Linked DNA regions of Homo sapiens. The protein of the gene in region 1 interacts with the protein of each later gene in a biochemical or structural test. Each region holds a gene or a part of one and is shown in the gene's direction. Other genes may lie near its edges.

Region 1 (3,224 bases):
TTCTATTGCTATGTATCAAACAACCCTAGAACTATGACAATGCTTTCCGATTTCTCATGGCTGGGCTCAGCTGGGCAGCTCTTCTGCTCCACATGGTGTAGCTGGAGTTACTTGTGTGTTATGTTTAGCTGGGAGCTCAACTGAGGCTAGAATGTCCAAGGCCTGTCAGCCTTTGAGCTCTGTCCCTGTGATTTGTTGTCATTCACTAGTCTAGCTGAGCTTCTTTATAGAATAGCAGCTGAGTTCCAAGGGGGAGTTTTTAGAGGACAAGCCCCAGTGTGAAAGTGCCTATAAAGCCTCTGCTTGCATCACTTTTGCTAATGTCCCATTGGCCAAAGCCACTCACATGGATAAGCCCAGTGTCAATGTGGGAGGACCCTACTCAAGGGCATGAATCCTTGAGGTGTAGCCCACTGGGGGCGACTGATATGACAGTACACCACACAGTCCAGTCACCTTGCCAGATGGTGAGCACCTTGAGGAAGGAGCTGTGTTGGTCTTGTCCTCCTCTCCATCCCCAGCACCAGCATAGTGCCTGATCTACCAGGGCTACAGTGGATATTCAGTTAATATTTGTGAGATAAATAAACCTTATTTTATTATGAGTAATAATGGCAAATGAGAGCCATTATCTTTATTTATTTATTTACTTACTTATTTATTCTGGGGACAGAATCTTGCTCTGTCGCCTAGGCTGGAGTACAGTGATGTGATCACAGCTCACTGCAGCCTCAACCTCCCAGGCTCAAGTGATCCTCCCACCTCAGCCTCCCTCATAGCTGGGACTACAGGCATGCACCACCATGCCCAGCTAATTTTTGTATTTTTGGTAGAGATGGAGTTTTCCCATGTTTACCAGGCTGGTCTCAAACTCCTGGGCTCAAGTGGTCTGCCCACCTCAGCCTCCTAAAGTGCTGGGATTATAGGCGTGAGCTACTGCACCTGGCCTATTATCATTGTAGGTTTCCTGTATACAGATGCTGTGCTAAGAGCTTTTTCTGGATTATCCCATTTAATCATCCCAACAGGCCCAGGAGTTGGAGCTTCTACTTTCCCTGTATCACTGATGAAGCAGCTGAGGCTCAGAGAGGTTACATAACTTACCCAAGGTCACCCAGCTGATGAAGGGTGGAGTCAGAATCTGTACTCAGGTCTATCTGGCTCCAGAGCCCAGGCTCTTAACCCCATCATTGCTGCCTTGCAGATGAGGAAACTCAAGTCTGGGAGCAATGACTTGGTTTGGTCTAAGCTGGGAGGTCCCAGGCAATGTCTTGGCCCCACTCATGGGGTGGTTGCAAGACCAAGACAGGGGTGAAAAATGTGAGGATATAAAGCCTCACATTTAGAGGGAAAGGTAGACACAATGTGATACCCAAGGATTTGGGTAGGACCCTGCTCAGGAAGCATGGACTCAATGCAGGAGAGGAAAAAAGGCCCAGGAGCCCTAATCAGTCCTAGGCCTCAGTTTTCTCACCTGTGGAATGGAGCAGTGCCTTTCTGCCTTTGGAAGTGACAAGGTGCCCCTTGCCTCTGCAGACAGTGGGTGAGTCTCTGCTCTACATGCTGGAGAAGTGTCTGGGCCCTGCCTTCACACCAGCCACACGGGCTGCCTGGAGCCAACTCTACGGGGCCGTAGTGCAGGCCATGAGTCGAGGCTGGGATGGCGAGTAAGAGGCGACCCCGCCCGGCAGCCCCCATCCATCTGTGTCTGTCTGTTGGCCTGTATCTGTTGTAGCCCAGGCTCCCCAAGCTTCCCTGCATCTTGGTCCTTGTCCCCTTGGCCACACTGGAGAGGTGATGGGGCAGGGCTGGGTCTCAGTATCCTAGAGTCCAGCTGCAGAAGGAGTGGCTTTTCCTCCAGGAAGGGGCTTCTGGGTGTCCCCTCATCCCCAGTAGCCTCTTTCTTGCGTTTCTTTTTACCTTTTTTGGCACTCCCTCTGACCCCGCGATGAGTGTTTTGGTGGCAGAGGTGGGATGAGCTGGAAAGGTATGGAGGTGGGAGAGGATGGGGCTCTTCTGTCTGTCCTGCTTCTTCAGGTGAGTGCAGGCCAAGGCGGGGGTGAGATGGCTGAGCTTCCAGCGCCTTCTGTCCTGCCTGCCCAGTCCCTTCACTGCTTTCCTGCCCCAAGATGGCTTGCTTTTCACAAATAAAGAGAAAGAGCAGCTTTAGCCTTCTTGGTGGAATCCCAGGCAGTGGGAGCAGAATCAGAACTGCCAGGGAAGGGAAGGGGGACCTGGGTCTCAATGGGTCTCATTTGAGTCTCGCGGGCTGTGCAGATGCCCTGACAGAGTCGGTTTCCTTTGGCGGCATTCCCTTTCCCTCATTCAGCACTTCTGCTGGGAACTCCCTGACTATTCCGCTGCTGCAGGAACCCAGCTAGCTGGCCAGGTGGGGAGGGGCTGGGGACCGGCCAGGAAGGAGGGGTGACTTCATCCCAGAGAGACCCGAGTTCCCCCAGCCCTTCATCACCAACCCGCTCCTGCAGGAGTGAGTCTTACCTCCCCTGGCCCTCCTTTCTGGCTCAGCCTGCAGCGACTGTGAGGCCACAGCTCCTCAGATTCACTGCCCGCTGTGTGCCAGTACTCAGGCAGCTGGAGAGAAGAGAAGGCAGCAGCAGAGGCCCCCGCCCTCACCCCAGCCATCTGCACTTGTACCATTTGCTCTGTGCTGACTGTGGTCCTATAAATTCATGAGAAATAAACTGGTTCTGTGTGCCTCTCTGACCCTCGGGCCTGATCTTTTCTTGGGTCTTGGCCTGTGCCAGATGAAGCTGCAGGGCAGTGGATCTCAGGACAGGATGGGAGGATGGAGTCAGGGAGGCCAAGGCTGGAGTGGGTGGAACAGGAGGGAGGGGCCTGGGAGGAAGCTCTGGGAAGCCAGTGGCAGACATCTGTGGGGTCTGTGGCCCAAACTGGCTGGCAGACCACAAACCAGCTCTTCTTCCTCCTGGGCACACAGCTGGATGTCATGCAGCCACCCTTGCAATTAGGTGGGGCATGTGACTGGGCTCTGGCCGCTGGACCGTGCAGATGTGTGTGCCACTCCGAGGCCTGGTCCCCCAAAACTCCTGCATGCTCCTCCATGCTCTGTCATCCTTCTGCTGGTGTGATACAGACCTCACAGAGACCATGAGGGCCACGTGTTGAACATGGCAGAGCCACAGGTGAAAGGAGTCCTGACCCTGAATCGCTGCTTGGAGGAAGGTGCCTATTAATCAGAATCA
Region 2 (3,500 bases), on another chromosome or scaffold:
GAATACATCTTGATCTGAAAGACAACAGAAAAGCTGGTGAAGGGGTGATTCCAAACTGAAAAAAACAAAACAAAACAAAAAAAACCACATTTTGGAAAGAGTTACCCTCAGAATTGACACTAATAGAGAAAACTTTTGATTCTGAAAAAAGAAAGTGTGCCTGTTTGTACATACCCACAGAGTGTGGGTTTACAAATGGCAGATGTTGAGAAGAGCACTCACCTCACTTTCTTACTGATTGCATCATCTTAAAAAGCTTGAAGATGCTCAAATGAACTCCATCCTAAGAATTTCTTCAAATCTGTGTCACATTCTTATTTTCTTCCATCCCTCTCATTCACACACAGCATTGGTAGAAAGGAAGCTGTCCAACAGATCTGTGATTAGCACTGAGGGGAAGGAGAGGAGAGAGCAGTGGCTTGTTAACTGGTTCAGATAAATAGGTAGTTTCTTGTGTTTAGAGAAGCAGTTTAGCATGCTTCTCTAAAATTGAGAGTTGGTTAAGAGCATAGACTCTGCAAACAGGCTGCCTGGCTTCAAATCTTGGCTCTACTGCTAACTAAATATGTGACCTTACACAAGGCCCATAACATTTGGTGCCTCAGTTTCCTTACCTGTAAAATGGGACTGATAATGAAAATAACTACTAATAGGATTGTGGAGAGCATGAAATGAGTTAACATATGAAATGTGCTTTGAGTAGTGTCTAGAATGTAGAAATCATTATACAAATGTTAGCTCTAGTTTTTATTCCTTTGATTAGTGGGTGTTCCCTTCCCATGTGGAGTTCTCTTGTCAAGTAAGTATGTGGGACTTAGCCACCCTGAGAAGCAGAAGGGGGGTGCTGTGGTTCATGTTCATGGCTTCTTCCCCTTGCCTGCTCTGCAGCACCAGTTATATAACAAACTGTGTTGTCATAACTGATGTGACATTTTTGATGGCGCAGCTGCTTCAGCCCAAGAGCTGGGGTGACATTTCAAAGGGTGGGAAAGAGCACTGAACCAGGAGTCCAGGTCAGTAGCTCTGCCTCTGCCCCTCCGAGGGCTCGGTTTCCTGAAAGAGTTGGACCAGGGCTACCCCAGGCTCCCTTCCTGTTGTCAACGGTGTATGAAATTGGGAATTCCCTTTGTTTTCAGGGTCTTGATGTTCTCAATATTAAAGCATGAATTATGGTTTTATCCCATGGGGGTGTAGGGTATCCATGAAAGTTCTTTTAAGACTAAGTTAATTGCAGAATAGCAACCTCAGCCACAGAGCTTTGTCAGCCAGGAAATTTGTAGTTCTGAGAGTCAATTTGAGAAAAACACCTCTAACCAAACTTTTCATGCAGACATGGTTCTTAAACCAAAGAGGAGGATCTGAAAGTATCTCATTAGTAAGAAACAGGATGTTTCTGGGAGGAGAGAGCCAGTGACATTAGAAGAGAAGTGGTTTTTCCGTGGCTTCCAGGATGCTCAGAAGTGGAGACAGCCCTAGCGTTCACCAGAAATGGCTGCATATGAAGAAACTTGCCTGGGTTAAGGTGCCTAAAACCCAGGGAGCAGAGAGATTTGCAGACTAGTAAAAGGGGAGGCTCAGGAGAACTGTATTTTAATTTTGATTCACTCTCTCATTTAACTTTGGGCAGATCATTTGGCCACCCTGGGCCTCAATTTGTTCATCTGTTAATTGGGATGTGGGTTTTCACCATAGAATTTCTCAGGGCTCTTTCGGGTTTCCAGCTCTAAGATGCAGTAAATGCAAAGAGAAACTTAGAAGCCTGAAAGGCGGTGGGGAATAGTGGGAGTATTTACCACCCACAGCTTTTATCTGCTGAGCCATCTTTAGTTCTAATTTTCTTTACAGAGAAGAGGAAAAACATTGTGCTTTTCATAGCACCAAAAAATTAAAGTAAAATAAAATCTTGCAAGGCTAATAGTTGGTGCCCTGAATTTGGCCCCTTACTCTCTTGATTTGTCAACCATCCTAGAAATAAGTAGAATGGAGAAAAGAGAAAGGGAGAATAATACATAAGACTAGGATTTCATAGCTAACAATTTACCTTGGATTCTCTGCCTGTGTCTTAGCCAACAGATAGGTTTTCTGTAGAATATTGTTACTTATGAGAATAGCTTCTCCATGCTTTAAAATTGATCCTGGGGTCACCTGACCCCAGGGTCTCAGAGCACTAATGCATATTGCACATTGTGAATTAATTAGGTGTTTATTTGTCTGTATCCCTTGCTAGCCTGGGTGTCCCTTCCCACCAGGGCTCCCTGAAGCAAGGATGTTACTTATTTTTGCTCATAGTACAGCACCATGCCCAATGCCTGGCACAAAGGAGGTCTTAATAAACGTTAGTTAAAGAAAAGGAAGAATACGAGGTATATAAGGAATGAACCTTATTATTCTCCATAAACCAAAATAATCATGTTGAAAGCTTTTGGTGGCCATGGAATGTGTTCATCATTTTCAATCTATTATATTCATTTGTTTATCAACCTGTGAGCAAATATAGTCATCAATTCCATTTTACAGATGAGGAAGTGAGGTTCAAAGAAGTAAGGTGGCTTGCTCAAGGCCACACAGCTTAGTAGGTGACAGTGTTGTATTCAGACAATGATTTGTCTAATTCTAAAACCTGTGTTCTTTTCGTTGTAACTCCACACCTTTCTTACTAGACCACCCCCAGTATGGGCAGTAGAGACCTGGCAGTCTACGACCTCACACCCAGATGTTGATGGTGCCAGCTGTGGTTGAGGTCAGTGGCTGAGAGAATAGAAAGTGCCTAATTGGTGCTGAGTTCCTTCTGGAGGTGGTAGTAATGGTCATCATATATCACATTGATTTGGATACCAGAGTATTCCCTAGCAACCATCTGGACAGGCCTTGAAATGATTTTTCATTACCGCCTCAAAAATGGGGGCCATTTTCAGATTGCAACAGAGAGAAGGCTCTGGCTTTGGTGGAGGCAGGTGTCTTGGAGAACTATGGAAAGACAGGATGGTAGGGGATCCATCCATCTGTCCATCCATAAGCATTTATGATTGCCTATTTTGTGGGTAGCATACACACAGTGTCATGGAAGTAGAGAGGAAGGCCTCAGTCCTTGTCCTGAAGGAACTCATGGTCTGGAGGGAGCTACACAAAAAAGACTCTTGCACTTCAGGTAGGAAGGGCCACAATGTCTGTATACACAGTGTGCTATGGTAGAACAGAAGGCACCTTCTCTAGGCAGGAAGTTCAGGGAAGACAGCCAAGAGACAATGGCATGTGAACTGAGCCTTTAAAACAAGTGGTAGTTCACCAGGTCGAAAAAAAGGAATGCCAGGCAGAGGGACTGGCATGTGTAAAGGCATTAAGATGTCACCACATGGAACATGCTAGGAGTGTAAAATAGTTTGATTTGACTAGAGCAAAATATGTAAGAGGAGTGTTAAGAAATGAGGAATGAAAGATTGGACAGAAACCAGATCATGAAAGGCCTTATCTATTGTGCTAAGGACTTTGGATTTTATTCT

The links.
Region 2: the proteins of NGB (region 1) and GNAO1 form a complex in vitro, tested with the Homo sapiens proteins (one study listed by BioGRID).

The regions. Positions count from the first base shown.
Region 1 is NC_000014.9:77,264,983-77,268,206, reverse strand, and holds the end of NGB (neuroglobin), read left to right. Parts: intron 1-1,536; coding exon 1,537-1,671; 3' UTR 1,672-2,724; downstream 2,725-3,224. UniProt on the Homo sapiens protein: Monomeric globin with a bis-histidyl six-coordinate heme-iron atom through which it can bind dioxygen, carbon monoxide and nitric oxide.
Region 2 is NC_000016.10:56,197,989-56,201,488, forward strand, and holds part of GNAO1 (guanine nucleotide-binding protein G(o) subunit alpha), read left to right. Parts: intron 1-3,500. UniProt on the Homo sapiens protein: Guanine nucleotide-binding proteins (G proteins) function as transducers downstream of G protein-coupled receptors (GPCRs) in numerous signaling cascades.